4 linked regions of the Homo sapiens genome follow. The protein of the gene in region 3 interacts with the protein of the main gene of each other region in a pairwise test. Each region holds a gene or a part of one and is shown on either strand. Other genes may lie near its edges. The genes, in order: CALM3, DLST, CAMTA2 and CDH1.

Region 1 (7,639 bases), on a different chromosome or scaffold from region 3:
GTAGATCCAAACTTGGCATGTTTTGGCTGCCTGTGAGACTAAAGCAGTGAATGCCACCCCTCTCCCCAAAGCATCAAGAGGCTCACCCACTGCAGGGCCTGCCCCTGCCTTCCTCTCTTCACCCGGCTGGGCTCCAAGCTGCTCGGGGCTCTCACCCAGTCTCGCTGGATTTCCTTCAGTTCCTTGATGTCTGGGCTTCTCTTGCCTCAGGGCTTCCATACATGTCGTCCCCCCGAACTGGAATGCCCTTCCGTCCTTCCCCTACCCGGCTAGGGGACTGCCCATCTTTCAGGTAGGTCTCAGCTCAGTCCTGCCACCTGACTGGGCTGACCCCTTCTCTGTGTGCTCCCATGGCATGATGGGCCTGCCTCAGAGGAGCCTTCTCAGTCCCCGCCTTTCAGTCCATTTGTGCGACTATCTCTAGGACAGGACCCTGCCGTTGATGACCCTGCGATCTAGCTGGGATCAGAACTGTGGTTCAGAGGCGTCCACTGGGCTGCACTGACTGGACACAGCTTCAGAGCCAGCTTTGAGGAGAGGCTCTTCCACCTCTGGGCCAAAGGAGTCAGTGCTGGGGTTGGTGTGTATGTGTGTTGGAGGGGGGCAGGCCAGAAACTGAGACAGGAGGAGAGGAGCCAAATCAGGTAGTCACTGTATTTTATTGGAAAACATTGATATATATTTTTCTTCACAGCTTGAACTGAACACAATATTGCCCGGTTTAAAAAAAACAAAACCAAAACATTCCGAAAATGTCCACAGCCTCACGCCTACCTGCCCTTACCCTCAGCTCTTGGCTGGGTCTCCCACTATGCCCCATCCCTCCTTCCCTCAGAGGCTGGGTGCCAGAGGGTGGATGAGAAGAGATTCTCAAAGCTGGGCAGGTCCCAGGAAAAGCCACTTGATCGACCTGGGCAGTGAGGGGAAGCAGGGGGTGGGGGGTGGGGTGGGGAGGTGGTGGGGGGAGCCAGATGAAATGAACAGAAAAGGGGAAAAAACCCAGACGACTGAACTGCCCACATTGACTTACTTGTCCCAGAGGCGAAAGTCAGAAGCAAGGGCACGGATCATGCTCTCCGCTGGGGGAGTATGGGGGCAGGCAGGTGGGCGAGGGAAGAGGCAGGGAAGAGGGCACGGAGCACAGATGTGAGGAAGCGGCGCCAAGTCACCACGGAGAAGCGGGAGGTGCTGGCGGACCAGGACGCAGAGGCTGCTGTAGCTGCCGTCCCCTGGGCAGCTGGCCGACAAGACTGTTTTATTGCAGGTGCGTTCTCTTGAGAGCGTGGTGGGGCCCATCTTCCCTCTCCCCACCCTTTAGCTAGCCCAGCATGGTTCTGAACAAAATGAAAGTCTTAAGGGCCATAGAGGGGAAAGAAAAAAAAAGAGAACCAGCACATTACAAAGCGACCATCCCCACATCCATTCCTAGGACGGGCCCTCAGGGCGGTGGGTGCATCGTGAGGAGGGAGCGGCATGGGATGTTAGCACCAGGTATTTACAGAACAGCTCGAGAGCGCTTCAGGAACGCGGGCAAGTCCAATTTGCAGAGTGGCCAAATGAGCAGTCCCCACCCAGCCAAACCTCAGAAAGCCAATCAGATGGTTTCAGAACAGCAGCCAGTGGGATGTGAGTGTTGCCCACTGTCAGTCCCCTTCTGTGAGTTGGCCCCCTCGACCCCCTCCTGGGCCACATCCAGTCAACGCCACAATTCCTCAACGCCCCCTCAGTCCTTCTGGAATGCCTCTCTTGGCACCCCTGCCCCAACAGGCTGCTGGGATCTGCACGTGGAATCACAGGGCTGGTTGCATGCAACGGCAAAGGGCATGCTCTTCTGCCTGGGGGAGGGCCTCTTGTCCCTCCCAGCAGGTCCCGGGACAGGGCTGGCAGCCACCCCAGCACCCAAAATAAGATGACAAACAAGAGGAAACAAACCAAAATGGAGGAGAGCCATCCGGGCTGGAGGAGGGCAGAGGCTCCCCAAGGGGATCTGGGGAGGGCTTCAACTTATGAATGCATCAGGCCTTGGAAGACATGGATGGAAGAGGCGAGGGCAAAAGGAAGAGATGAGGGGCATGGAGAGAGACTCAGGGAAGAAGGAGAAAGAGCAATCATGCAGCTTGGGACAAATCTTTTGTTGCTTTATCAGATTCTCAGTCAATCAATTGGTGTTTGCTAGAACCGGGGTACGCAGGGGAGTGTTGAAGAGAGAGTGCGCGCGCGAGAAGAGAGAGATCAAGAGAACGGGCATCGCCAGCTGCCCGGGGGGCCTTCACTTTGCAGTCATCATCTGTACAAACTCTGTGGAGTGAAGCAGAGAGAGAGGAGGTCAGGCGGGCAGGCTAAGTGGCGAGCGGCCCTCCCCAACAAGAGGGATCTGGGGGCTTGTTCCTGAAGCTGCGATTCTCTTCTTGTTCCAGAGATCAAGCCTGGCCTTGACTCACCTTCATAATTGACCTGGCCATCTCCATCGATGTCAGCCTCCCTGATCATCTCATCCACCTCCTCATCGGTCAGCTTCTCCCCCAGGTTCGTCATTACGTGACGCAGCTCTGCGGCGCTGATGTAGCCATTCCCATCCTGGGGGTTGGGGATAAAGCCTTTCACTGGGCACTTCTCCCGGTGGGGAGAGAGGCAGTGAGAGGGGTGGCTGTCATCACCATCCCTCAGCAGTGAGCACAGTGAGGGAGGCTGCCTGAGGTGGCAGAGCAGGTTGGCAATGAGGCTGGCACCGGGACCCGGACCTCCTGGAAGTGGTAGCTCCGTGGCTCCAGTTCCGCCTGTCTGCCTGAAGGCTGGCGTCAGTCTCAGAGCCGCCCCTGGAGAGGGCTGCTTACCTTGTCAAAGACACGGAACGCCTCTCGGATCTCCTCCTCACTGTCTGTGTCCTTCATCTTTCTGGCCATCATGGTCAGGAACTCCGGGAAGTCAATGGTCCCGTTCCCTGGAAGGTGGGGAAAGGATGGAGAATGCTCTTGGCCTGGGCCCTGAGAGACACGGGCTCATCCATCACCCTGAGAGAGGCTCCCTGCAGTCACTCGGGGTGACCAGGAGCAGGGCTGCCCACGCGCTCTGTGGGGCTCACCATCTGCATCCACCTCATTGATCATATCCTGCAGCTCTGCTTCAGTGGGGTTCTGTCCCAGGGATCTCATCACTGTCCCCAACTCCTTGGTGGTGATAGTGCCATCTCCATCCTTGTCAAAGAGGGAGAAGGCCTCCTTGAACTCTGGGGGAAGAAGGGGGAGGAGTCAGAGGTCACAAGGTCCACAGGAGAATCCTTACCTCTGGATGCTGGATGCCTTCCCTGGAGGAAGGCCAAGGGCATCAGTCCCACCTAAAGAAACTGAGACAGACTTCAAGTCCCACGCAACCAGCTCTCTCTCCTCAGTGCTCAGGGCAAAGCCCTTCCAACCTTCATTCAACAGTTATTGAACATCAACACTGTGCTAGGTGAAGCTATTTTTCTGGCCAGCCAGTGAAGACAGTGGGGAAAATGGTCTGACAGCTGTCCTTAGATGATTCTACATTTCTGTTTGGTCCCTGGCTTTGACTTCTCCCTTGAAATGATGAAATGAACCAAAGTCATGGAGTGAATGAGAGCCGAAAGGATTCTTTGTCTGAGTGTGTTAGCCAGGGTTGGCTGGCTGGGACGAGGAGGGGAGGCTGCAGAATGCCTCTGGCCGGCCTGAAGAGGAAATGCAGGCATCCACTCCCTTCTGACTGGCAGCCCTGTTCCTTGCCGTGGGTGCTACCAGCTTCCAAAGGAGCTGAGCCACTGCGTGTGGTGAGCGTGGGGGTGGTCGGCAGCAGAACATGGCTGACGGACAGTGCGTGGGGTTGATGGGGGGATGGAAAGCGAGGGGACGGCTGCCAAGCCAGGAGGATGAGGAGCTAGCAGTGCTGAGTGGGAAGGCCACAGCTGGGGCCGCATCAGGGGCAGGGAGAAAAGCACATGGCTCTTGCCCTCCCACTGGGCCCATTTTGGCACCTGGTGCTCCTCTACCCCCAAGCCCTCCAAAAACAGATGTCCGGCAGCCTATTCCCAGAGGGTGTGGGCTGGGGTGAGGCGGTGGACAGTTTGCTAATGGGGACAGGGTGAAAAGCAGACCGTTTATGTTGCACAAGGCCAGAGTTGGGAGATGGGTGGCAGGTGCATTGGGAGGGACATGCACAGCTGGGAAGCTGTGGCCCTGAGCCTCTGGGCCCTGGGGACATGGCAAGAGTCTCTTTGGGGAGGCTGGCACCTCCCTGTGCTGAGGCCTTGTTGTTCTTGGGGAGGGCAGGTAGTGAGTGGGTCATGGGGCACCCCGAGCTCATGATCACTAAACCAGGCCATCTTCTGGCTTTCCTCAGGGGTCTCCATAGCCACCCAGGGCCAAAATTTTGAAGCTGCAAAGGTGACTCTGTGATGCGGGTTGAGGGGAGAAAGGAGAGAAGGCAAGTCCGTTCCTGCCTCCCACCGCAGAAGCTGGGCCTTTAGTACTTGTTACACAGCCGGTTGAACCTGACAGCAGAGCTGGGGGCTGGGTAGCTGGTGGGGAGCAGAGGCCCATTCTCTGGATCGCTACTCTGGTCTACTGTGTGCTGGCCCCTGGCTATGGAGATAAACCAAGAGTTGCTCTCTGTCCTCGGGCAGCTCAGTATGGGCGGGTAGGCAGGCACGGATCTGTAATTACACAATAGTTCCTGTAGCTGACCCTTCTGGGGTTTTGGAGGGGTTAGAAAAATGAATTAGATGGGATCCAGGGATTTCTTCTAGCTTGCTGAGAGAGAGATGTTTGTTTAGCCAGCAAAAGTTTGCGGAGGACCTACTACGTTCTAGGCAGGCATTAAGGCTATAGCAGGGACCAACAAAACCAAGTCCCAAACTCAATGGAACTCACATCTAGTAACAGGAGATACAACAGGTGAAGACATAAGAAAATAATTTCAGACAGCGAGAAAGGTTATGAAGAAAATAAAGTGATGTGAAGGAGAGTAAAGGAAGGCTGTGTACTTGAGATGGGGGTCAGGGAAGGCCTCCCCGAGGGGACATCTGAGCTAAGGGACGGGAAGGAGCTGCCCATGCAAAGCACTGGGGAGGCACTTCCGCCAGCAGAACAGGCAGGCGCAGGCACATGCGAAAGGAAGTGCAAAGCGCAGGCAAGCGCAGAGGTGGGAGTGACGAGCCAGCTCCTGGGCGGCTCCTAAAGTGGGACAGGAGCTCTGCAGGCCCCACAGGGAGGCAGGGAGCTCACCTTCTAAGCCAACCTGGCTGAAGCTGGGAGAGAGAGTTGGGCTCGTCCTGCAGCCACTGATATCAAGCCCCTAGATGACCCAGGCCCAGGAGAGGAACACAGCCTTTGGTGTCTGGTAAAGGCCTGTCTCAGGGCCATGGGGCTTCGTGTCATTGGGGCACTGGTGTGCTCTTACACACATTTATCAGCATTCTAGGCACAAGGCATAGTGTTAGGTGACACAAGGGATACACAGGTTCACCCATCAGATGTCACTCCTCAGTGGCTAAGATTTGGCTGGGGATGTGGAGGCTTTCCTGAGCTAAGATGAGGGGGATAGCAGACTCACCTGCAATCTGCTCCTCAGTCAGCTGGTCAGCCTGTAAAAGCATGAAGGGGAAAGTCAGTCACCAGGCCGGACAGCACGGACGCATCTTCCTCACTCAGCCCAGACCCTCGGCCCCAGTGAGGCCAGCTCCACGTGCCATTCCCGCCGGGCCAGGGAGGAGCATGCCAGAGTCAGGGTCTGAGGCAGAGCCAGCGCCTGATGATAAAGTCTGGTGATTCAGAAAGCTGGGTACCAGGGTGGGCTGGACACTCAGGCCTGCTGGACGCACGGCCCGATGAAGCTGCCCAGACCCACGGGCTTCCAATCTCAACTCAGCATGTGGGAGCCACAGGGGCGGGAGAAAAGCCTGCCCCAGCCCCAAACCAGCAGCGCTGGTGAGGCCTGGCACAGGTTTGCATCTCATCAGTGAGAGCCCCAGAGGCCGAGTGAAGGGAACGATTGCCCTGGAGGCCTCATCAAGAAGCTCTAGAAGGCTCCAAACTGAAGCAGGCCAGTCCTTGGGTAGGGCAGAGGGACGATGTCTGGGGCTATCTCTGCTAGTTTCTGTGTCACCTATTTGGAGGCGGTTGGCTCAGGCAGAGTCCACCCAAGTGGCAAAAATTCTCCTAACCGGCGGCCCGAGTTGCTCAAGCACCTAAAGAACTCTGGTCAGGCTGGAGGCAGGCGCTCCACCCCCTGCGCACAGTGAGGGCACAGGGCCATTCTGTTTTGTTTCTTTTGGGCAGAAGGGACAAACGTCAGGGAGAGGGCTGCAGCGGGCAGCAGCAGAGGACTGAAGCTGGCTTGCACTGCAGTTTTTAACCCTTTCCAGCTTGGGCACTCTGGGGACTGGCCAGTGGGTGGCAGGCAGCCCTTGCTGCATGCGGGGTTTGGGGGTGGGGAGGAGATGCGGGGACTGGCTTCTCCTGCACTGGTGTGCTGGGCATCAGCCAGGCATAGTGATCCTATGGGGCAGGAGCGGGGCTGGGGGGTTGGGGAGGCTGAATCCCAACATTTAGCTTTAGCAGCCAAAAGACACATTTTCCCTGGTTTTTGTTGATGCTGTGAAGAAGGCACCACCATCCCGGGACCATGGTGGGTCTGTTCCCCTTCCTTTCACAATCAGGGAAAGGGGCTCCAAGTCTATAGCATGTTCTAGTCTCGAGTCTGAGAGCCTCAGAAATAGAAGCAGACTATTATGTGAATTTGCAGTATTCTACGGAGAGGTTCCAGAAGCTAGGAACAAACCACTGCCTGCCTCCCCTACCCCCATCCCCGTCCCAAATATTAACAATCACTGATCTAAAAAAGTTAGAAAAAAAAAAAAAAAACCTAACGGAAGAAGAACTTGCAAGCCCCAAATAGGCAGAATGGGAGGGGTAATCAAAATGATGATCACAGAGGGGAGAGGGCTTAGGGAGGGGGAAAGAGGAAGGGAGAAAACGGCACACATGCACATTCTGGAAAAGTCCAAAGTGTAAAGGGGAGGTGGGGAGGCCAAATGAAGATTCTTCTGCATTGCCTTCAAAAAAGACAGGGTGGTTGGGCTTCTAAATGCCAACCTGGTAGCCCCAGGCCCATGAGCCTCTTGATCCACCTGCCCCCCACCTCCCACCATGGACAAAAAAGCCTGGAGCCATCCCTTAGGTCCTGACACCTGAGGAAGAGGCTTAGGGAAAGTGAGAAGGGAGGATGGGCTTCTGGTTACCGAGACCAGGCAATGCCCAGGGAGGGTCAGGGAAAGAACAGAGAGGAGGGCAGCAGTGTGGGGAGGTGGCTGCCATCCCATCTGCTTTTCATTCTTTCCCCTGGCCTAGAATGGAAAAAGCGAGCCAGGTCAGGGCCTTCCCAGCCCACTGTTCCGCCCTGCAAGAAGTCCAGCTCCCCGGACCTTTGGGCAGCACTGTAAGGGGCTGGGGGTGGGGGCGAGGAGGCTGTGACAGGCTGCAGACTGCCCCGAGCGGCTCTGAAGGCCACCGTTTGCCAGTCTCCACCAAAAGACTGGAAGATGCAGATGAGGCACTGCCATGTTCAGTTCTGTCACAGGGTTGCTGCAAATAGGCGTGGCTCTGCATGGAGGGCCTGTCAGATGCTC
Region 2 (7,686 bases), on a different chromosome or scaffold from region 3:
TGGGATGCTTGTGAGGAGGTGGGCATAAGAGAGGGCTAGCTCTCATTTGGTGTGTCCTGAGCCCATGGTTCAGAAAGAGTTGTTAATCTGAAAGAAAAAAGACATAAGAAAGAATTCAGAAGAGGCAGCTGTAGTTACTAGTCATCAGTTGGGGAAATGCAGTTAACTATGATAAGGACAGCTGGTGGGCAGAAAGGGTCTCTCACCTTGTTGAGAGTGACCAGGGTGGAAGACTTCAGAAAGGCATGGGAAGTCAATAAACTGAAAGATGGGGACATGATTTTCTCAGCTCTAGGACAAACTGGAGACCCCGAGCCTAAAGTAGCCAAGTCTTTGCTACTAGGATTCAGGTGATAAGATTTCCAACCCAATCTTTTCAAACCCAGACCAAACATCCTCCTTGCTTCTCAAATTGGGTTATGTATAGTCACAGGATAAGCCATCCCATGTCTTTCTCAAGCTTCAGTTGTATTTGAAGACTTGGCGAGTAGAGACATTTTATTATGAAAACATACAGGAATAATGAAAAGTTCTGGCTTTTTAAGGTAGATGAGATTATATAATCACTTTGGGCTGTGCCATCAAATTTTTTCTCTTTCCTCCCCAGCCAAACACATACCCACTCGATCTCACATACCCATTTGCTCTCTGCCACTAAGGCTACTTTGGAAAAGTTTGAGAAGCAGGACTCTATGATAAAGATTATATCCGTTGCCGTTGATCCTGCTCTGTCTCAGGGTTGGGGGTGAGCAGACCTTTTCCATTCCCAGCATGTATCCTTTGTGAGATAAGAGTTGTTGGTTAAGAGTTATTTTGTTTCTTGCAGGGGTCTCCTTATGCCAGGGACCAGGTTACCCTAACAGCAGGAAGGTTGTGTAAGTATCACTGGGGAGTACAGATATGTGGCCACGGGTTATTTATTTAAAGACATAAAGTTCTAAATTTGACCATCTGATTTCTTCACTGGCCTCCAGACCTAGAAATTGAGGTGATTATGTTGAGTCCCTAGACTAACCTCAATGTTCACTTTTCCCATGTGATGTTCCTTGAGCATCAGCTCCGTGTCAGGTTTTGGACTGGGAGTGTGCCCACTCTCCACAGGTGTTTGGATTATAATGAAAGTTAAGTTGGAATCCTCTTTTTATGGGATATAGAAGGGTGCTCCTAGATATTCTGTTTGGATGTAAGTGCAGCTGAAAGGCTCGAGGTTACATTTATTGTGGAGATTGAGAGCATCCTCTCAGTAGCATAGTTACTCATTTTTAAAAACAGTAAAAGCATAAAACTGGTTGAGTCCTGGGACTGACTGACTAGTTTGGAGGGAATGCTGTTATTGCATAATGCAGAGTTTGGAGAAAGGCTACCCATGTGTGTTTCAGATTAACTTCTGCGTATGAATGTTGCTTAAATGCTGCTTTGCATTCCAAGTGTTTTTGTGGTGGTGCTAAGAGAATGCTCTCTAGTAACCTGTTCAGCAGCTGTCAGGCTGCTTACTCTACAGGGAGAATCCTCAAAGTGAAGAGGTCAGCGGATGAGCTTCTTACTTACTCTACATCACAATGAGGGTTTTTGTTGTTGTTGTTTTGAGACAGGATCTTGCTCTGCCACTTTGGCTGGAGTGCGGTAGCCTGATCTTGGCTCACTGCATCCTCAGCCTCCTGGGCTCAAGAGATCCTTTCACCTCAGCCTCCTGAGTAGCTGAGACTACAGGCACATGCCACCATGCCCGGTTGTTTTTTGTATTTTTTGTAGAGATGGGGTTGTTTTGCCATGATACCTGGGCTGGTGTCAAACTCCTGGGCTCAAGCAATCCATCCACTTGCCTTAGCCTCCCAAAGTGGAGGATACAGGCGTGAGCTATGGTGCCTGGCTGATTTTTTAAAATTTGAGTAAATGTTGCACTCAGTACTAGAAATATGAATCCCGGTGTTATTTTGGAGGGCAGTTTGATAGTCATAAGTCTTTGAAGTGTGTGTACCTTTTCTTTTTTTCTTTTTTTCAAGATGGAGTCTTGCTCTGTCACCCAGGCTGGAGTGCAGTGGCGCGATCTCGGCTCACTGCAGCCTCTGCCTCTCGGGTTCCAGCAATTCTCCTGCCTCAGCCTCCTGGGTAGCTGGGATTACAGGCGCACGCTACCACACCTGGCTGATTTTTGTATTAGTAGAGACGGGGTTTCATCTTGTTGGCCAGGCTGGTCTCTGAAACTCCTGACATCAGGTGATCCGCCCGACTCAGCCTCCCAAAGTGCTGGGATTACAAGCATGAGCCACTGCCCGGCCTGTGTGTTCCTTTTCATCTAGCAATTCCATCTCTAGGAATCTATACTGAAGAACTCCTGGTATATTTATCTCAGATTTAATATCTGATAATATAAATATTATCAGATTTATCTTAAAATGGCAAAGAGCAAGGGATTGGCTAAACTATAGCATGTTCACATGTTCACACTATGAAAAGTGGGAAAAAGCAGGTTACAAAATAATTTCATTTTCTACTGTGTGGTATGATCCCATTGTAAGTATTCTTTTTGCTATTTCTAATATTCTGTAGTGAACATCTAGTTATTTAGAGATTCAAAATGTATTACTCATCTGCAATCAAATGAAAATTGGGGCAATCATGACTCTCTACAATAAATACACTAAATATTTGAAAGTAAATAATGAAGAAAAAGTAAACTTTGTGTGGGATCACCCCAATCATGTCACCCTAATCCAGTATCTTTGTGTGTGTTGTGCCTTTTTTGTGAATAAGGTACCCACTTTATTTAATAAATCTTTTATTGTAAAACAATTTTTGGTTTTATGTTTTTACTAATAGTATTATATTTACATGATTAAAAATTCAAAAAGTAAAAAGGGTGTCCATGAGAAGACTTTTTTATCCTTGTCCTCTAGCCCCCCGAATGCCTCTTGGGTAGTGGTGGCCACCACTCCGGGTTCCTGGATGACTTGCAGAGCAGCCTCTGCACTTGCATGTTACCTGTTAGTTCTTGCCTATAGGCATGTACTTTACAAGGTTACAAACTATATGTAGAACAATTTGTATTCTTGTAGTTTTTAAATATCTTCATTTTTTCTTGGTTATACATAGACCTTATAGTTATTTTGACATTATAAAAGTAAAAATACCTAAAGACAACTTAAATCTCTTTTACTTTTCTATTATAAAAATGCTTGTTGTGGAATATTCAGACAATCCTGAAGTGTAAAAAGTGAAAGTCCCCATCCAAATCATTCTCCCAAATTGTGTAAGTGTGCAACACATAACCAGAGATACCATATATGTCTACATCTCTCACCCCTCAGAGGTAACCACTGTTAATGGCTTTGTGCATACAGGGTGAGCTGATTCTCCAGTTTATATTATTTACTGTAAAGGCCATATCAGTAAACGCCTTGGTCTTTGAGGTTCGTTTTGAATGAATCCAGAATGTGTTGATGTGCTGTTTTCTAGCAAGAGAACCGAGTAGGAGATACCATATGGGGTTTGTGTGTGGTTTTTTTGTTTTTGGGTTTTTTTTTTTTTTTTTTGGCATAACACCTTGTTTTACTTCCGAGTTAACCTTGTTAATCTTGCTGCCTTATCTGATCTAAATCTGTTATCTTGAGGGCAGAAATTCCATTATACCTTGCACAATGGCTTGTACCCTGGGCAGGCCGTAAATCTATCTCGGATTTAGTTAAGGAAGAGACCTGGCTGGACATGGTGACTCACTCCTGTAATCCCAGCACTTTGGGTAGGATCTTTGAGACCCGTCTGGGCAATGAAATCCATAGTCTACAAAAAGTAATTTAAAAAAATTATCTGGGTGGCATGTGCCTGTAGTCCCAGCTACCCGGGAGGCAGAGGTGGGAGGATCCCTTAAATCCAGGAGTTTGAGGTTACAGTGAACTATTATCATGCTACTGCACTCTAGCCTGGGTGACAGAGCAAGACTCTTATCTCTTAAAAAACAAAAAACCAAATCAAGAAGCTAAGTCATTTCGGTCTGCAAAGGACCAAGGTGCTTATTTTTTTATTGAAAGAGCCAAATGTAAGTCTGTTTTGTGAGAGTTGGCATTGCATTGCAGCACAGGGGCCTGAGCATACTTGGGGAGCTCACCATTTAAGGTACCTGGGTCGTTAGGCTCTACTCCAGACCTGCTGAGTCAGAATCCCTGGGGGAGAGGCCTAGACAAGTGAACTTTGAAAAAGTTCCTCCCCAAGTGACACTGATGGACACCCCTGGTCAAGAGTCACTGTTTAAGGGGAAGGTGACCCATGGGGCCTTAACTAGACTAAAATGTGAGTGGTTCGCCTGTTAAAAGGAGTTAACGTGTGTTTCTTTTGTAGCATTAACAACAGTGTCTTCAGTGTTCGCTTTTTCAGAACTACAGCTGTATGCAGTAAGTACCTGCTTTCTTGGGAATGGAATTTTATGGGAAGAGCAACAATTGATTGAGTTTAATTAAAGAAAAATATTAAAAAGGAAAAATGAACTACTTATGATTTTCTTTTTTGCATTTTTCCTAGAGGATGACTTGGTTACAGTCAAAACCCCAGCGTTTGCAGAATCTGTCACAGAGGGAGATGTCAGGTGGGAGAAAGGTAAGATTTAGTTTCCTATTTTTTTTTTTTTTTTTTTTGAGACAGAGTCTTGCTCTGTTCCCAGCCTGGAGTGCAGTGGTATGATCTCGGCTCACTGCAGCCTCTGCCTCCCAGGTTCAAGTGATTCTCCTGCCTCAGCCTCCCGAATAGCTGGGATTACAGGTGCCCACCACCATGCCTGGCTAAGTTTTTTGTATTTTTAGTAGAGACAGGGTTTCACCATGTTGGTCAGGCTGGTCTCAAACTCCTGACCTCAGGTGATCTGCCCACCTCAGCCTGCCACAAAGTGTTGGGATTACAGGCCTGAGCCACTGCGTGAGCCACTGCGCCTGGCTCCTCTCACTTCTTAAGTTTAAGTGCTATCTAAAATTCTCCCCTCCCCTCAGGATAGTTGTAGAATTTATAGCTCTGCCGTTTTCTTTACATATGTACTTTCTGCTGGCCCTGTAGGAAAGGGTTCTTATAACATACCTGCCAAAATGGGTTTTGTGGCTACTGGAGGCTCCCCGCTAACAGGTAGCCTTGTAGCCTTTGATTGTCTTTTCAGCTGTTGGAGACACAGTTGCAGAAGATGAAGTGGTTTGTGAGATTGAAACTGACAAGGTAGGCTTATCTTATATTCGTACCAGCTTTTCATGGGCTTCCCTTAGTTAACCTAATGAAAGAAACAGGGACTTAACCATTGTTTAGAGATAATTTTTAACTAGCTCTAACTTCAGTTGTAAAATTATTGGATTTGTTCAATTTAAAAAAAAAACAACTTTTTACATTTAACTTTTTTTTTTTTTTTTTTTTTTTGAGACAGACTTGCTCTGTTGCCCAGGCTGGAGTGCAATGGCCTGATCTCAGCTCACTGCAACCTCCACCTCCTGGGTTCAAGCGATTCTCCTGCCTCAGCCTCCCTAGTATCTGGGCTTACAGGCGCATGCCACAACGCCGGGCTAATTTTTGTATTTTTTGTAGAGACAGGTGTTGCCAGGCTGGTCTCAAACTCTTGACCTCAGGTGATCTGCCCGCCTTGGCCTCCCAAAGTGTTGGGATTAGAGGCATGAGCCACCGCACCTGACCTGCATTTAACTTTAAATTGTTTGCTGTGTGTGTACTATGTACTTCATTTAGTAGCTTTAGTCTTGTAGTGTGTGGTGAGGGGGTGGGGAGGGTAAATAAGCTGTTTCCACTTTTTCCTGTATCACTTGGAAACATATTAACTGAATATTGCCTGAATGTTTCTGAGAAAGGACAGAAAGTGAATCTTCACAGTAGCGATGACTTGTTATCACCCTTGCTCTGAAATTATGGCCTTAGATGTTTGTGTGCAAGGCCTTATATATTGTGTTGCAACTCTTGTTACTCACTGGAGATACGCTGTTGTTGTTGTTGTTTTGAGACGTTTCGCTCTATCACCCAGGCTGGAGTGCAGTGGCACGATATCGGCTCCACCTGCCAGGTTCAAGCGATTCTCGTGCCTCAGCCTCCCAAGTAGCTGGGATTACATTTTTGTAGTTTTTAGTAGAGATGGGGTTTCACCATGTTGGCCAGGCTGGTCTTGAACTCCTGACCTCAAGTGATCCGCCTGCCTTGGCATCCCAATATGCTGGGACTACAGGCATGAGCCACTGTGCCTGGCTTCATTGGAGATTCTATACAGCTAATTTTCTAATGCTGGATAAACATTTGGACTTCCTCCATCTGTCTTCCTCTTCCAGACATCTGTGCAGGTTCCATCACCAGCAAATGGCGTGATTGAAGCTCTTTTGGTACCTGATGGGGGAAAAGTCGAAGGAGGCACTCCACTTTTCACACTCAGGAAAACTGGTGGTAAAGAAGTTCTCCTGGTGGTCAAGGTCTCCAGTGTTCCCTCTTGGGATTGGGACTGAGCATAATGTGCTAATTCCCCGATATGTCAAAGACTCTTGTCATTCCAGCTGCCCTTAGTTGAGGGAATAAGGGGTAAATTTATATATAGTGTGAACTTCAAATGTCAAATTCTAAAAGAAAAGTGTATTTTTTAAAAAATAAACCTTATACTCTGTTCTTTCCATGGGTGTTTCTTAGCAGGAGCTGAGAAACTGGACCTTTTCTTATAGATATACAGATTGAGCATACCTAATCTGAAAATTCAAAATCTGAAATGCTCCAAAACTGAAAATCCAAAATCTGAAATGCTTCAAAACTTTTTGAGCACTGACAGAATGCTCAAAGGAAATGCTCATTGTCTTTTATGGGGAATTCAGTGTTGTTTCTTTTCACATCTGTTCTCTCATATCTCTAGGAAGGGTTGGTATTTCTTTTGGGAAGAAATGAGAAACGAATTTGTACTGGACCTGATAGGATTAGAGATTAATAACTTTATCTGACTCTTAGTTAAATTTTATAACCACTAAAAAGTCTATTTCTTTTTCCTAAGCGAGAATCGTACCCGTAGACCAACGAGTCACAGAAGTCTATTTCTTTTTCACTGTTACACTAATAAGGCAGATAGACCGCATGATTGAGGTTAGTCAGGCAAGACCAGAAGCTCAGAGTAGAAAACATGTATGGTAGAAGGCTGGGAAATAAGGTAGTCCTCCTGTTGCAGAAGTTTGTCTTAGCACTAACCCTGGATATAATGTCCAGATGGGTGAAAAACAGAAACAAACATTTCATTTAAAGTTGTGAGATTATTACTTGGCCACTTCAGTGATTTATGAGTCATCCTGGATGAAGTGCTTTCTTAAGCCTAAGTCAACCCTCGATGACTATTTTATTTTTTGAGATGGAGTTTCACTCTGTCGCCAGGCTGGAGTGCAGTGGCCTGATCTTGATTCACTACAACCTCCGCCTCCGGAGTTCAAGTGATTCTCCTGCCTCAGCCTGCCGAGTAGCTGGGACTATGGGCACATGCCACCACGCCCAGCTAATTTTTGTATTTTTGGTAGGGACGGGCTTTCACCATGTTGGCCAGGATGGTTTTGATCTGTTGACCTTGTGATCCGCCTGCCTTGGCCTCCCAAGGGGAGTAATCCCTTGGCCTGTAATCCTGGGATTACAGGCGTGAGCAACTGCACCCAGCCTATTTTTTAATAGTATTCTTGCATATATAATGTTAAAATAGAG
Region 3 (8,468 bases):
ACCCAGGCTGGAGTGCAGTGGCGCCATCTCGGCTCACTGCAAGCTCTTCCTCCTGGGTTCATGCCATTCTCCTGCCTCAGCCTCCTGAGTAGCTGGGACTACAGGCGCCCACGACCACGCCCGGCTAATTTTTTGTATTTTTAGTAGAGACGGGGTTTCACTGTGTTAGCTAGGATGGTCTTGATCTCCCGACCTCGTGATCCACCCGCCTCAGCCTCCCAAAGTGCTGGGATTACAGGCGTGAGCCACTGTGCCTGGCAGGAGTTTCAGATTCTTTAGCCTGACTCCAAGGTTCTTCCCAACAAGGGATCAAACTTTCACTGTTCCCACTATTTACCCATATTGCTCCTACAATTCCTGCCAGATGGATCCATTGATTCCTTCCTGAACATGCTTTGAATAGTTACCTCCTGCATGTTAGTGCCCTACAAGGCAGGTACCATGTGCACACCTCTCCATATCTGGAAATCATAGCCATTCTATAAACCAAACCCCTTTTCAGATGCTCCATGAAGCCCTGCTGACCACACTGGACCTTCCTAAACGCTCTATAGCACTTACAACAATCACACATACACACATACACGCATCGTTTTACTGACAGTCCTCTTCTGACATCAAATTGATAAATATCAACAACCAACTACATACAAGGCAGTAAGTATGCAGAATACAGAAAATGTGTAACACAAGGACTGTGCCTCCTCCAGAAAGAGCCAGTATCAGTGGTGGTTAATAACAAAGGTTCCAGCCGGGCGTGGTGGCTCATGCCTGTAATCCTAGCACTGTAGGAGGCCGAGATGGGCGGATCACTAGGTCTAGAGTTCGAGACCAGCCTGGCCAACATAGTGAAACCCCATCTCTACTAAAAATACAAAAATTAGCCAGGTGTGGTGGCGTGCCTGTAGTCCCAGCTACTCCGGAGGCTGAGGCAGGAGAATGGCGTAAACCTGGGAGGCAGAGCTTGCAGTGAGCCGAGATCGCGCCACTGCACTCCAGCCTGGGCGACAGAGCGAGACTCCATCTCAAAAAAAAAACAAACAAAAATTAGCCGGGCGTGGAGGCACATGCCTGTAATCCCAGCTACTTGGGAGGCTGAGGCAGGGGAATCACTTGAATCCAGGAGGCGGGGGTTGCAGTGAGCCAAGATCGCGCCATTGTACTCCAGCCTGGGCAACAAGAGCGAGACTCCGTCTCAAAAAAAAAGGCCCTGGAGTAAGTTAGATAAACTATGAGGTAAATCAGTTTCCTCATCAATAACATAGGAGCAATAACAGGGCTTGCTCTATAGAACCGTTAGAGGATTAAATGAGACAAGGCAGGCCAAATGTTTAGCACGGTGCCCAGTATGTAAGGAATACTTTACTGGCAGTAGCTTTTGTTTTTACCCAGGTGGCTATGCCACAGAAAAGAGGGCTCCTTCAAGATCCATGTCTTTTTGTTTTTGTTTTTGAGACGGAGTCTCACTCTGTCACCCAGGCTGGAGTGCAGTGGCGTGATCTCAGCTCACTGCAGCCTCCGCCTCCCTGGCTCAAGTAATTCTCCCGCCTCAGCCTCTCGAGTAGCTGGGATTACAGGCGTACATCACCACGCCTGGCTGCTTTTTGTATTTTTAGTAGAGACGGGGTTCCACCATGTTTGCCAGGCTGGTCTTGAACTCCTGACCTCAGATGATCCACCCGCCTCAGCCTCCCAAAGTGCTGGGATTACAGGCATGAGCCACCATGCCCGGCCAAGATCCATGTTTTTATACCTCTCCTAGGATCCCCAAAGAGCTTAGAATGGTGCTCTGCACTTAGGAGTGTTGACAGACACGGAAAGACCCCCCACTCACCCTCCTCCAGCCTACTAGGTCTTGCTGGGCCCCAACCCCCAGCCTCCCTAGAAAACCTCATTTGTATTCCACCGTAGCCTCTCTGGAGGCAGCAGCGGGCAGCGAGGAAGACACTCCAGCAGCTTCTTGGGGAGAAAGATCTTCAGGTGGTGGCTGTTTTCTAAAGGGAATTAGAAGGGAGGGTTTAGTGTGCTACCCTGGGGCATCCCTGTGATAGTCCAAGGGGAAAGGGCTGAAGGCAATACAGAGCACTGGGGAAAACTGAAACCTCACTAAGGAGAACAGAAAATCCAAGAATTAGAGGGCCACTAAAGCGTGGGGAGAACGAAAGGCTGTGGCCACATTGGGAACCTGGTTTGTGAACTTACCAGCAACCTCGGTGGTGTCCTTGGTATTCATGGTGAGGGCTCCAGGGGGCAAGGTCACCCCCGGCCTGAGGGGCCGGGGGGAGGGGGAGTCTGTGCTGGGAAGGGAGAGAACAAGGTCATGGCAGAAGCCCCCACATTAATCCAGGATGAGAAGTATGAGGTAGGGAGTGGGTATAGAACTGGGTCATAGTATCTGGGAAGGATGAGGAAAGGGAGGGAGGGGCTGACTGTGATGTGACAGTAGAAGAGAGAACAACACACAGTGCCCGGAGCCAATATGAGTGAGCAGACTGGACAGGAAGAGTGAGCAGGAAGAAATGGGTTGGGGTGGGGGAGCGGGGAGAAGACTGGCAGGGCTTGGGCCTCAGAGGCCCTAAACCTTGAGCTTTTGCACAGACTGGGGCTATGGTTGGGTCAGGTCCTGGGGGTTGGGACTCAGGCCATCCGGTCCTTGGAGGATGGTTTGGCAAGAGAGCCTGGATCCTGGGGGCAGGGCAGGAGATTCTACCTCCGGTAGAAGCTAGGCCTTTAGAAGACACGCCCTGAGTTCCTTCTCTGTTTGATTTTTCCAAGGGGAAGGGCAGATCTGATAACTGAACCTAACCTATTCTCTCCTCCAGGTTGGTTAGGACCTGATAGAATCTGGGCCAGACACCCAGATTCCCACCCTCAGGACAACCCACCCTCCGGCTGACAGCCCTCTCTACGTAGCTCCCTCTCCCCAAACGCCTCTGCCTCCCCTGGCCTCCAGGCCTAGCCTACCCCATCTACCGCTCTGGCTCCAGCCTGAGCCCCCCGCCCTCCTCGGGGAACAGATGGGAGCTGGCGGAGGCTCTCAGCACGGGCTCCGCCAGGTGTCCAGGATGGAGATGGGAGGAGGCCCGTCGGGCTCGGCTATGTGCAGTGAAGCTGGGGTTGGGGTAAGGACTCCGCCCCAGGGCGCAGGTGCGCAGTCCTGGCTAGGCAGCCTGCCAGGGTGCGGAGCGGGAGCGGGTCCTTGGGCTGCACTTGGGCGGCGCCGGATCGGACGCTTGGCACTCTGGGCGGCCCCCCGGCGGAGTGGTGGTCCCAGGAGAACCTCCGAGGTGGGAGGGTCCCGCCCGCATAGAGGGATGTTCTGGAGAAGCCGGGAGCAGAGTCCGCGGGCACGCGGTGGGCGAGGGACAGTGCAGGTGCCGGGTGCGGGGGTCTCCGGGACAGTCCCCGGCACGCGCTGGTCCGCCGTGGGGCCCTGCGGTGAGCGGCGCCCCCTGGCGCGGGGGAGGAGGACGGAAGCGGGAGGTGAGGGCGAACCGGGAAGAGGGACGGTGGTCCCTGGCGCGGCGCTCCGCGTCGGGACCTGGAGGAGCTGCGCCCTCTGGCGCGGGGGCGGAGAGGCGGGCGAGAGGCCCTGGCTCTTACCTCCCGGGGTCCCGCGGGTGACGGCGGCAGCGGCCATTCTACCCCACACCGACCCCCCCCAGCGCCGGCTGACAGCGGCGTCTAACGTCACTGCGCACGGGGCGGGGCCTCCCAATTAAGGGGATGAGGGTCAGGAAGGGAACCTGGGGTCAGCACACGTGGAGTTCTGGGTGGGGCGCTGGGCAGAGGGACTCGGCTTCTAGGGCTCTGAGCCAGGCCGAGGGACAGACTGCTGGGAAGTCCCCAAAAGGGCAGCAGCACTGAGGGGCAGGATTCCAGGGTCCTGGAGGCGGAAGCTCGGCCGACTGACTCCCAGTTCGAGAGAACGGGGCGGGGGCAGCCCACCAGTGCTGGAACCCGAGGGGCCGGGCGAGGAACGCTGGACTGGGAGCAGGACCCTTCTCGCCTCGGACAAGACTCCTTGTCTGGGGACCCAGCCCGACTTCATTGTAGCTGGGTCCTCGAGAAAGCGAAAGGAGCCCTCCTTCCCCATTGGCCTCTCCATCGCTGCATCCCAAGAAGAAAGACAACTCGGGCTCCACTTGCTTGCTTTTTAATAACAGAGCAGAGAGAATACAAGGCCAGGAGCGGGGCCTGGAGGAAAACAGGACTTGGGGTGCTCCTGTGAGAGCGGTGGGTTGAGATGGGAGCCCACGGGGGCTGTTAATGCCTAGTTCAGAGGATGGGAAAGGCAGTTGGAGAGACGAAGGAAGGGGAAACGCCTTCATGTCAGCAATGAGGGTGACTCTAGTGACGGAACTAGTCTTGGGTCCCTGGGGCACCACTAGCCTCTCGGCATCGGTGGTTTCTCCTTACTCTTCAGACGCTGCCAACTCCATCCCCCAGGGATTGTGAAGGGGGTTCCTTCTGGCTGTGACAGTGCTGAACGAGGCCAGAGAGTGCAGCTGCCTGGAGGCACAAGCCTCCTCCTGATCCAGGGGGCTCCAGGGAGACCAAAGCAGCTGTCAAGATGAGAGAAATTGAAAAAGAAAATGGAAAAGTAGGTCTTCTTTCCAGATTTCCTAGTACCCAAGCTTAGGTACCTCGAAGTCTCTGGTTCTCACCTACGTTATTTTTGTTTCTCTCAAATCCAGCTCTCCAGCCTGGCTCTCAGCTTCTGCATCTCCATGCAAGACCAGAGACCCACATCACTCCCTCACTCCACCCAGTTCCACTCCAACAATACCTGGGCCCTGCCAGGAGTGAGAAAACGGTCCTCTTCCTGTGGATAGGTTGCTCTCTCCTCTTCCAGATCAGGGTATTCATTGGTGCTGGGGAATCCACAGCCCTCTTCGCCAAGCACCACTGGCTCAGATGCAGCCCCAGAGCTGCCCCACTGGGCCTTCTTCAGTCTGTGGAGACTTTAGGCTGAGGAGAGAAGTGCCTGGAGGCCAGGCTTCCTGTCTCTCCATTCTTCACCTTTCTGTTCTGAAATACTTCCTGCTGGGACTCCAGGGAGTTGTCATTTGACCTTTAACCCTCCACTCCCAATTTTCTGCTCCCCTCAGACTGAAGCATATTGTCTAGGAACCCAGAGGTGACCCCAACCTCCCCACTGTCCTCCAGTTCTATGGTTTGCTTTCCTGTCTTCAGTGATCTAGTTTCCACTCCTTCCAGCTCATGTGGCTCATCCTCCTTACTGCAGTTCCCTCCTTCTTTCCATATTACAGAAATCTGTTTCAATCACACCAAAGCCCACAGCTTCCTTCCAAGCAACCTCCCCTCAAAGCTCCCCTCAAACCTCCCCTCAAAGCTGTCAACCCCTTCCTTAGCTCAAACTGTTCTGCCCCCAAATCCTGCATGACTCCCAGAACCCAGATGTCTCCCTTCCTTACTCGTTGATGATGCTCTGACGCCTTCTTAGGTCCTCCAGGTGGTAAGTGACAGCCCTCACCCGGGCGGGGACTCCCCCAAGGCCCTGCTGCTGCATTCCTTCCAAACATGGCCTCCTCTTCTTTCTTCTCCAAAGCATTTCAGGGGGTGGGAGCTGCTCAGGAGGATACAGACCAAGCTGGGAGCAACCAGTGGCTCTCTGTGCCAGAGAATGGGGAAAAAGAGCTAGAAAGAAGAACTGGCTCTCTCAAGGGAGCTTGGATTGAACTAGGTAGGGAGTCTGGGGTCTTGGGAAGACCCCTGTGATCTCGAAAACATGATGACTGATTCATAGAAAGGAAGGCCTGGTCAGTGCACTGGTTGGGGAATAACAGAGGGAAGCGGTAATAAGGAGAGCTTGGGACAGGACAGCAGTGGGTGCAATTTTAACAGAGAAATGTTAAACGGCAGAGGGTCTGTCTTACCAGCATGGGTGGAATGTGCTGCTCCTCCAGCCAAGTGGGGCTGTGAAGAACAAAAAGGGGGCTATAAGTGCAGAGGGGACATGTCCATCCATATTGCTTCTTTAATAATCTCTCCCGACCTCCTTTCTGTCATTAGGAGCTACAATGTCCACCAGCCAGTGGGAAATTAACCGCAGACTAGGGCCTATTGCTATATGGGTTTATGGTAGTTTAATCCAGTTAAGACCACATCCAGTTAGTTTCCATTTTCTCCTCTACTCACGTGGGCCTTTGATTAAGGTTCTTCCAGAAGACATCTCCATAACGCTGGGGCATGGGTCTGAGGCTCTGGGAAGGCAACCTTGGGGGTGGAGATCGGCTGACCACCCTGGAACACCTGAGGTGAGGACAAGGTAGGCTCGGGTCTGGCTCTTCCCTTACAGCAGTCTACTCATCCCAAGGATTCAGGGGCCATCTTTCCATGGGACTATAAAGCTGCCCAGGTTCCCTCGGGCCATGTCCTCTCTTAACCACTTTAGCTGAAGAAGGTGGTAAGGCCTCTGCTTTGAAAGGAAATTGAAGCTGGGTTGAGGGTGGAGATTGGCTATAGTTTGACCCTCAGATCTCACTGAGTTTAAGCTCTATATCGGGGATGTCCAATCTTTTGGCTTCCTGGGCCACATTGGAAGAAGAAAAATTGTCTTGGGCCACACATAAAGTACACTAACACTGGCCGGGCGTGGTGGCTCATGCCTGTAATCCCAGCACTTTGGGAGGCTGATGTGGGTGGATCACCTGAGGTCTGGAGTCCAAGACCAGCCTGGCCAACATGTTGAAACCCCGTCTCTACTAAAATCACAAAAAATTAGCCAGGCGTGGTGGCGGGCACCTGTAATCCCAGCTACTCGGGAGGCTGAGGCAGGAGAATCACTTGAACCCGGGAGGAGGAGGTTGCAGTGAGTCGAAATCGCGCCATTGCACTCCAGCTTGGGTGACAAGAGAGAAACTCCGTCTCAAAAAAAAAATTGCAAAAAATCTCATAATATTTTATTTTATTTATGTATTTATTGAGACCGTTTCACTCTTGTCACCCAGGCTGGAGTGCAATGGCACGATCTCGGCTCACTGCAACCTCCACCTCCCGGGTTCAAGTGATTCTCCTGCCTCAGCCTCCCGAGTAGCTGGGATTACAGGCACCCACTACCACGCCCGGCCAATTTTGTATTTTTAGTAGAGACGGGGTTTTGCCATGTTAGCCAGGCTGGTCTTGAACTCCTGACCTCAGGTGATCCACCCGCCTCGGCCTCCCAAAGTGCTGGGATTACAGGTGTGAGCCATTGTGCCCGGCCTAATCTCAACGTTTTAAGAAAGTTTATGAATTTGTGTTGGACTGCTTCAAAGCCATCCTAGGCCGCAGGTTGGACAAGCTTGCTTTATACCTCATAGTTAGAGAAGGTAATATTTAGCAAGCAGAGTTGTTAAAGAGGAAGGCCTTGGCTACTCAGGTTATATGACAGATAGGATTCATTTAGGTCAATGCAAGGATCCAGGGGAGAGAACCTCTGTTTACTTCATTTGTCTCCCCATCTCAAAAGGACTAATATCCTTGTAAATAGGAGTGTGCAGAGCTGTTTGAGAACACTGCTCGTCACTTCCAAACCCCACAGGCTGAATGATGATTGCCCTCCTGATCTCTAAGAAATGGAGTATGTTAGGGCTTAGGCCTGGGGCCCTTTATCTTCTCTGTCTTCATCTCTTCTTAGGTGATCTCACCCAGTACCATGCTGTCAATAAGCTGATGACTCCCAAATCTATATATCCAGCCCTGGTTCCTCTCTGGGCTCCACTCAACATCTCCTCCCCAACCTTCCTCCTCTCAATGAAAAGCACTCAAATGCCCAGTTGCTAAGACCAAAAACATGGTATGTCTCACTTTCCCTCACCTCCCACATCTAATCCATCAGCAGTTCCTGTCAGTTTTACATCTAAAATACTGTGTACCTGAATTTGACCACTCCTCATCATTCCCACTCCTACCACCATATATTTCAGGTCATCTTCCCCTTCCTGGACTGTTGCAATGGTCTCTTCCCCCCGTCTCTGCTTCCATTCCCATCCCCCAACAATATATTCTGCACAGAACTGTGAGAGATGATCATACGAAATAATATAAGGTTTGAGATGTACTTCAAAAGAATTTGAGAAATAGGGGGCTAGATGGGTATAGAGATGAAAAGATTATCCATACAATGATAATTATTGAAGCTGACTGAAAAGGGTACATGGGGTTCATGATACTATTTTCTCTACTGTGTTTGTTTGAAATTTTCCATAATAAAAAAAGTTGAAGGAAAAAAGGCTGGTCATGTCACTCTCTGCCTTAAAACTTTTCCACTGAATAAAATCCAAACCGTTTTTTTTCTTCTTCTTTTTTGAGACAGTCTCACTCTGTCACCCAGGCTGGAGTGCAGTGACCCAATTATAGCTCACTGCAGCCTCAAATTCCTGGGCTCAAGCAATCCTCCTGCCTCAGCCTCCTGAGTGCTGGGACTACAGGCGTGTGCCACCATGCCTGGCTAATTCTTTTAA
Region 4 (7,686 bases), on a different chromosome or scaffold from region 3:
GACTGCAGCAAGCTGAGATTGCGCCTCTGCACTCCAGCCTGGACAATAGAGCAAGATTCGGTCTAAGGAAGATATGTGTGGAGAGAGAGAGAGAGAACATACAGATACGTTGCTGGGAGAAAAACAAGGTACAGAGCAGTGCTATCATATGCTATGCTTTGTGTAAAAGGATCATATGTTAGGAATTTACGCTGGCATAAAGAAAGAAGACTATGCTTGTATTTCCATAAGGAAACACTGAAAAGGATACACAAGAGACTAATGAAATCTGTTCCCTGTGCCCCAGGGAAGAACTGGGTGAAGCGTGGTTTGGGGTGGGAAGGAGACTTCACTGTCTGCCATACAGACATATATACAAGCTTTTTCATATATATATGAAGATGTATATTTAAACTTATTTTTTAACCGGGTGAATAATTTGCCTATGAAAAGCCCAGAAAGAGAAAACCCTCCATGACCCACGGCCCAAGGCCCAGAGGTACCCTGGCCCAGCTGCCTCTGCAGCCTCATCCTGGGACCCTCTCCTCCCTCCTCTTTCTGTGCCCAGGAAGGCACAGCTCCAGCCTTCTGCCTCCATGACCCTGCCACACCTTTGGGTACCCCACTTCCTCCTCCTGGAGTGCCCTTTCCCTTTCCTTGCATGGAAGACACCCTCTTACTCATCAAGGCCCAGCAGGTGAAGCTGACCACTCCTGGCATCCCCTGAACACATTCTCATTCCAGTGGCATTCTTGGAGCCTACTGGAATTACCTGCTGAGAGGTCTCTCTTGGAGATTTTCTGGAATCTCCCTGAGTGTAGGGGGTGAGTCTTAGGCCTGGGTGCACTGGATACTTCTCTGGGTCCCCCACTCCCACACCCATCCACCCCACTTTGGTGTGTTTGTTTGTTTGTTTGTTGAGATGGAGTATCGCTCTGTTGCCCAGGCTAGAGTGCAATGGCACAATCTCCGCTCATTGCAACCTCCGCCACCCAGATTCAAGTGATTCTCCTGCCTCGGCCTCCCAAGTAGCTGGGATTACAGGCATGCACCACCACGCCCGGCTAGCTTTTTTTATATTTAGCAGAAACGGGGTTTCACCATATTGGCCAGGATGGTTTTAAACTCCTGACCTCAAGTGATCCTCCCACCTTGGCCTCCCAAAGTGCTGGGATTACAGGCATGAGCCACTGCACCCAGCCTCCCATCCACCCCTCCTTGCATCCATAGAGTTCTCAATCCTGGGCATGGCAGAAGCACCAGCCTATCCCTCCCTGATCAAGGGTGTGACCTGGGATCCCTGGCCTTGGGCTGGACAACCAGGTGCCCACATCCTGGCTGGGGTATTTACTCATCAAACATCTAGCCCCTGGGATTGTCCAGGGAAATGCATTGAGTGGCAGCAGATATCTGAGGAGCTTGCTTATTTATTTTATTTATTTAGAGATGGAGTCTCGCTCTGTTGCCCAGGCTAGGGTGCAGTGGCACAATCTCGGCTCACTGCATCCTCCACCTCCCGTGTTCAAGCAGTTCTTCTGCCTCAGCCTCCCAAGTAGCAGGGATTACAGGAGCATGCCACCACGCCCAGCTGAATTTTTGAATTTTTAGTAGAGATGGGGTTTCACCACGTTGGTCAAGCTAGTCTCAAACTCCTGACCTCATGATCTGCCCGCCTTGGCCTCCCAAAGTGCAGATTACAGGCGTAAGCCACCGCACCTGGCCTGAGGAGCTTTTAAAAACATCAAATTCAAGGCTGGGTGTGGTGGCTCACGCGTGCGATCCCAGCACTTTGGGAGGTTGAGGCAGGCAGATCACCTGAGGTCAGGAGCTTGAGACCAGACTGGCCAACATGGTGAAACCGTCTCTACAAAAATACAAAAAAAATTGCCAGGCGTAGTGGTGCATGCCTGTAATCCCAGCTACTTGGGAGGCTGAGGCATGAGAATTGCTTGAAGCCAGGAGGCGGAGGTTGCAGTGAACTGAGATCGTGTCATTGCACTCCAGCCTGGGTGACAGAGCAAGACTTCATCCCAAAAAATAAATAAGTAAGTAAATGTCAAGTTCAGATCTCCACCCTTGGAGATTGGCTCTCAGTGAATCTGCAAGAGGGCAAGTCTGCATGAAGTGCCCTAGGTGATTTGATTTTTAGCCACAAGGATCTCAGGGGCTGGGACAGAGCGTTTTTGGCAGCAGGAGAACAGACAGGTATTCTTAGGCATGTGCATCATGAAATATATATACATATATATATATATATACACATACATATATATACACATATATTACACATACATATATATATACATATATATATATATTTTTTTTTTTTTTTTTGAGACAGGATCTCTATCAGCTGGAGTGCCGTGGTGCAATCATGGCTTACTGCAGCCTCGACCTCCCGGGCTTCACGCAATCCCCCCACCTCAGCCTCCTGAGTAGTTGGGACTACATGCACATGCCACCACGCCCAGCAAATTTTTGCATTTTTTTGATGCTAGTACCACAGGTGCACGCCACCATACCTGGCTAAATTTTTTTTTTAATCTTTGTAGAGATGGGGGTCTCGCCACGTTGCCCAGGCTGGTCTCAAACTCCTGGGCTCAAGTAATCCTGCGGCCTTGGCCTCCCAAAGCACTGGGATTACAGGTGTGAGCCACAGCATCTATCTGGCCTGGATAACTTTTAAAAGCCAAGCAGAAGCTGACAAGTTCAAGATCATCCCGACTCCCCCGGCCCTAGCTGCGCCTTGCCCCACTCCTCCCACTCCAGTTCTACACAACCTCCACGAGCAGGTCCCCTTTCCTAAGCCACAACAAACCCGTTCCGGTCCACCCTGAGCACCCTGCACAGTGGCAAGCAAAAAAACGCCAGTTTCTTCCTAACAAGGCACTAGGCTTAGTCACTGTTTGCAGTGCACTGTTTGCTTAACACAGAAGCAGGCAGGGTGAAGAAACTGGTTTGGCTGGTTTGCTGGGTGAGAGGGAGCGCAGGGGATCTTTTGAACCAAACGTAAAACATGGGAGACTTTCAAACAGACAGCACCAAGTCCTCCTGGGGCTCTAATATTTCATATTCACTGAACGCTTGACATACCATCCTATGATGTCTCCATGCTATTATGCTCATTTTACAGAGAGGGAAACTAAGTCCTTGGCTGACATCCCTAGGCTGGGAAGTGACATTGTCTGGATTGAAATCTAGGCAGTCTGATTCAAGAACCTTCTGAATTTGGGGAAGATGCCACCCAAATCTTGGGCAGAAGTGGAGGATTGGAGGCAGGTAAGAGGAAGGAAGGAGGAAGATGAAAAGTGCAGAAAGGGAGGAGGCCTAAACCCCAGTCCCCCAAGAGTAACAAGAACAAGCTGGGACACTGAGATCCCTGGCCTAGGGAAACTTACATTAACAAAGAGGAAGAGAGAAAGAAAGGGAGATGGCTAGAGATGGGGATAGAGAGAGAAAGAGTGAGCATGCACCACAGATTTCTTTTTATTTGACCAAAGGTGGAAAACACTTAAAAATGGCTATATGCCCTCCCATTTCCAGACTCAGGTTTGAGATCTCCCTGCCTGCCCTGCACAGCTGTTCAGAGGGAAGCTATGAACACAGTATCCCCAGCACACACAGAGCATAATGGAAGGTTCTAACCCACCAAATTCTTCCCCGCCCATTTACAATCAACCTTAAGGGCTGGACCAAGTCCATAGAGTTTGAGAGGGAAAAATATTGGCCAAGATAGCGATTTATTCATGTGTTCATTCATTTGCTCAAAATAACATTGAGAGTTTACTGTGTCCCTAAGAAATATCAACTACTGTTGAAAATATTCTCTCTACTTTCTCTCTTTACATTCCTGCCCATTGGCATGTATGTTCCGTCCAATCTGCCGTAACCTCAGGGTCTAGCCTGGTGCTAACACACAACAGGCACTCACTTTTGTGAACTAAATGAATGTACATACTTAATTCTCATAATAGATCAATAAGTATTACCGCCCCATTTTACAGGTGGGGAAACTGAGACTCATAGAAGTAAAGTGACTTATTCAAAGTCAAATAGCTAGTGGCTAAAATTCAAACCTAGTTTCCTGTACTTCCTCGCTGAAGGATCCTAAACAGCCACTGCTGAATGATTTCATTCTCCTTTTTGAAAGCCTTGTGCCCTCAAAGGAGATAGAGCTGAGGCAGGATAGAAACCCAGGAAGGGGCCCGGCTCGGTGGCTCACGCCTGTAATCCCAGCACTTAGGGAGGCTGAGGCAGGTAGACCACTTTGAGCTCAGGAGTTCAAGACCAGCCTGACATCATGGTGAAACCCCGAATCTACTAAAAATACAAAAATTAGCTGGGCATGCTTCTGCGTGCCTATAATCCCAGCTACTCAGGAGGCTGAGGCTGGAGAATCACTTGAACATGGCAGGCGGGGGTTGCAGTGAGCTGAGATCCTACCTCTCTACACTCCAGCCTGAGCGACAGAGTGACACTCCGTCTCAAAAGAAAGAAAAGAAAAGAAAGAAAGAAAGAAAGAAAGAAAGAAAGAAAGAAAGAAAGAAAGAAAGAAAGAAAGAAAGAAAGAAAGAAAGAAAGAAAGAGACCCAGCAAGGATTGGATTGGGACAGGTGCCTCTCGGGGATTTTAGGGTTTGGGCAGCTTCTGGGAGATACGAGAGCTTCAGCCTCTGGCGTATCTGGGGCTACCTTGGAAGGGAATGTGTAACAGACACAAGGTGAGCATTTTGGAAGAAAAGCCTCACCCAATAAAAAGCCCTGGAGAGCAAACAGGGATTTCCATAACCACCTGGCAGAGAGGGGCAGGCAGGGCCCCACTGGGAGGAAGCAGCAGCCTGCCTTCTTTACATGGCCTTGCCGGGCCCAAGACTTTCCACCTCCGCACCTCCAGAGACACAAAGGCAAGGCCAGGAGGGCGGCCCACTGGTCTTCTTTCCCAGTAAGCTCAGATCAACCTTTGTCACAGACATGAGTAATTGGGGAAGTGACTTTTATGAGTTTGAGGGGTAGGGGGTGGGGATCTGATGATGTAAGGTGATCCCAAAGCTGGTTTCTGGGTTTGCTTTTTAAAAGTCTAATTGTATTAGGGAGGCTGCATACTGTTTTCTGAAACGTTCAGCACATCCTTCAGAAAGGAGGGGAAATGGCCGGGCACAGTGGCTCACGCCTGTAATCCCAGCACTTTGGGAGGCCAAGGTGGGCGGATCACCTGAGGCCAGGAGTTTGCCCAGCCTGGGCAACAAGAGCAAAACTCCAGATTGTAGACCAGCCTAACCAACATGGTGAAACCCTGTCTCCCATCCAAGTACTAGTACTAACCAGGCCCGACCCTGCTTAGCTTCCGAGATCAGACGAGATCGGGCGCGTTCAGGGTGGTATGGCCGTAGTCGAAACCCTGTCTCTACTAAAAATACAAAAATTAGCCAGGCATGGAGGCACACACCTGTAGTCCCAGCTACTAGGGAGGCTGAGGCAGGAGAATCACTGGAACCTGGGAGGCAGAGGTTGCAGTGAGCCGAGATCACGTCACTGCACTCCAGTCTGGGCAACAGAGCGAGACTCCGTCTCAAAAAAAAAAAAGGAGGGGAAATGGGTGTATTTAATCCACAAAGTTTGGGTGCCTGTGAACTAGGTCAACCCCTCAAGCAGCCAAACCTCAACACTGAAATATAGGCCCTGTGTTTCCAAGGCCAGATTGCAGAGCAAGCAAAGGAAGAAAACAATCACTGGGAAAGCCTGCCAGCTTTTCTTTTTTCCGCGCCTGAGTCAACTTACAGCTGTGGTTACTAGGCTAATACTTCAGAGATCCCAAACTGTCTAATAGCCTGGGTTTCTCAGACCGGTGTGTGCTATGAAGAAGGAAAATAAGCAGCAACTCTAAAGGACTGGGTTATTAGCCAGGCATGGTGACTCACACATGTAATCCCAACACTTTGGGAGGCCAAGGCAGGCGGATCACCTGAGGTCAGGAGTTTGAGACCAGCCTGACCAATATGATGAAATCCTGTCTCTACTAAAAATACAAAGGCATGGTGGCATGTGCCTGCAATCCCAGCTGCTCAGGAGGCTGAGACAGGAGAATTGCTTGAACTGAGGAAGCAGAGGTTGCAGTGAGCCGAGATCGCACCTCTGCACTCCAGGCTGGGCGGCAAGAGCAAAACTCCGTCTCAAAACAAAAACTGGTTTATTACAGTTGAGTTTGGTTTTTTTTTTTTTTGTAAAGGTCTTCATTCTAGAAGCTGGAGATAAACCAATGGAATAAATACAAGGTTGAGATCATGGGGTCAGCCACAGCATGGGGCAGAGGAATGACCCTAGCAAACACTCCAAAGTCCCCTGAGTTAAGACCCTACAGCTGCCTGTGCACAAAAAGTGACAGGTTTCAAGTTTCAAAATTCCCATGGAGTAAATTCTCCATGAAGCCAATGTCTAAACCTGGTGCCAATGTTACATCCATCCCTTCACTTCCGTGCACTGTCCAAAGAGAGTCAGGCCACATCCCAAGTCCTAGCGGCCTTTTAAAATCACAAGCCAGTTCCTCAGATTGAACGTGTGATTTTACCAGAAGGGCACTTCCATCCTGGGGCGACTCCACATTGGACTGATACAAGGAGACCCCACAGTCCAAAAAAGCCAAAACAAATATTAAATGTCAGGAAATCTGTTGTGTGGGGGTGGGGGTCTGTGAACATAAAGGGAACTGAAACCAACCACACCAGAGGCCTGCGGATTCTGTGTGAAGGCTGCCTCTTCCCACTAAATCACCAGTCCCAGGGTCCCCCGCCACCTCCCCCGGGTCTGACCCATCTCCATCATCACCACCCCCTCTCGGAGGTCCCACCCTGTCAACACCTCCATTCTCAGCTTACTTCACATTGGACACTAATTCCCCAAACACCTTTTTTCTTTGTTTTTGTTTTTTCAGGTTATTGAGGTGAAAAACAAGGAGAAAAAGGAAGAGAAAAGACCAACTGCGGATGCTTCAGATTACAGAATTGCTTTATGCCTCAGTTTCCTCACTTGCAAAGTAGGAAGAATAACAGTGCCCACCCTCCTAACGTTCTAGTGAAGACTAAATGAGGTAAAATATGTGAAGCACTTGCCCCAGAGTCTGAGGCAAAAGTGAATACGTGTCACTATTAATTATTAACATATTAGTGTTAATATGTAATAATATTATTGGTCAAACACAGGAGCTTAGAAGGGAGAAATAAAAACCAGACCAACCCACCCTTGGTGCTACCAAATATCTTGGTGCAGGAAAACAAAGTCACCAGCCTTAGCACTGGGACACCCCAGACGCATGCTCAGATACAAGCTTGTTTCTAGCCCCTGCCTTGCTCTCCAAGACTGGATCAAGTTTGCCTTCCCCGAGAAGCCACTCCTCAATGCCCACTGACATCAAAATATCCAATCCCCAGCACTCTGGGAGGCCAAGGCGGGTGAATCACTTGAGCCCAGGAGTTAGAGATAACTTCTGATCCAATAGAAAGCTCTAGAGCACACAGAGCAAATATACTTCATCAGTCGAGCTGTAGTTTCTCTGTAAAAAACTTCGAATGACTTCCAAAGTTCAAAAAAAAAATGTAAAGACAACAGCGTGATTGCTAAAGATTCATGTGGTCAAAGACTGGAAGAATGACACAGTGGAGGTGTTCCCTCAGGGGAATTGTGGGTGATTTCTCTTAAAAAAAAAATGCCTCTT

Evidence for each region.
Region 1: the proteins of CAMTA2 (region 3) and CALM3 interact in a two-hybrid assay, tested with the Homo sapiens proteins (2 studies listed by BioGRID).
Region 2: the proteins of CAMTA2 (region 3) and DLST interact in binary tests that used the Homo sapiens proteins (3 or more experiments, as listed by UniProt).
Region 4: the proteins of CAMTA2 (region 3) and CDH1 interact in binary tests that used the Homo sapiens proteins (3 or more experiments, as listed by UniProt).

What each region holds. Positions count from the first base shown.
Region 1 is NC_000019.10:46,603,784-46,611,422, reverse strand, and holds the end of CALM3 (calmodulin-3), read right to left. Parts: intron 5,597-7,639; coding exon 5,566-5,596; intron 3,600-5,565; exon of another isoform or gene 3,227-3,599; coding exon 3,083-3,226; exon of another isoform or gene 2,942-3,082; coding exon 2,835-2,941; exon of another isoform or gene 2,578-2,834; coding exon 2,442-2,577; exon of another isoform or gene 2,418-2,441; intron 2,326-2,417; exon of another isoform or gene 2,299-2,325; coding exon 2,270-2,298; 3' UTR 641-2,269; downstream 1-640. UniProt on the Homo sapiens protein: Calmodulin acts as part of a calcium signal transduction pathway by mediating the control of a large number of enzymes, ion channels, aquaporins and other proteins through calcium-binding. Calcium-binding is required for the activation of calmodulin.
Region 2 is NC_000014.9:74,884,760-74,892,445, forward strand, and holds part of DLST (dihydrolipoyllysine-residue succinyltransferase component of 2-oxoglutarate dehydrogenase complex, mitochondrial isoform 1 precursor), read left to right. Parts: intron 1-826; coding exon 827-875; intron 876-4,335; coding exon 4,336-4,388; intron 4,389-4,515; coding exon 4,516-4,590; intron 4,591-5,137; coding exon 5,138-5,193; intron 5,194-6,296; coding exon 6,297-6,408; coding exon of another isoform or gene 6,409-6,467; exon of another isoform or gene 6,468-7,299; intron 7,300-7,686. UniProt on the Homo sapiens protein: Dihydrolipoamide succinyltransferase (E2) component of the 2-oxoglutarate dehydrogenase complex. The 2-oxoglutarate dehydrogenase complex catalyzes the overall conversion of 2-oxoglutarate to succinyl-CoA and CO(2).
Region 3 is NC_000017.11:4,983,990-4,992,457, forward strand, and holds the start of CAMTA2 (calmodulin-binding transcription activator 2), read right to left. Parts: upstream 3,687-8,468; 5' UTR 3,641-3,686; coding exon of another isoform or gene 3,604-3,640; intron 3,473-3,603; exon of another isoform or gene 2,970-3,472; coding exon of another isoform or gene 2,965-2,969; intron 2,298-2,964; coding exon of another isoform or gene 2,234-2,297; coding exon 2,203-2,233; intron 1,995-2,202; coding exon 1,891-1,994; intron 1-1,890. Other genes in the region: protein INCA1, read right to left, coding at 4,416-4,565, 4,790-4,955, 5,439-5,635, 5,901-5,940, 6,163-6,276. UniProt on the Homo sapiens protein: Transcription activator. May act as tumor suppressor.
Region 4 is NC_000016.10:68,740,161-68,747,846, reverse strand, and holds part of CDH1 (cadherin-1 isoform 1 preproprotein), read right to left. Parts: intron 5,369-7,686; exon of another isoform or gene 5,274-5,368; intron 1-5,273.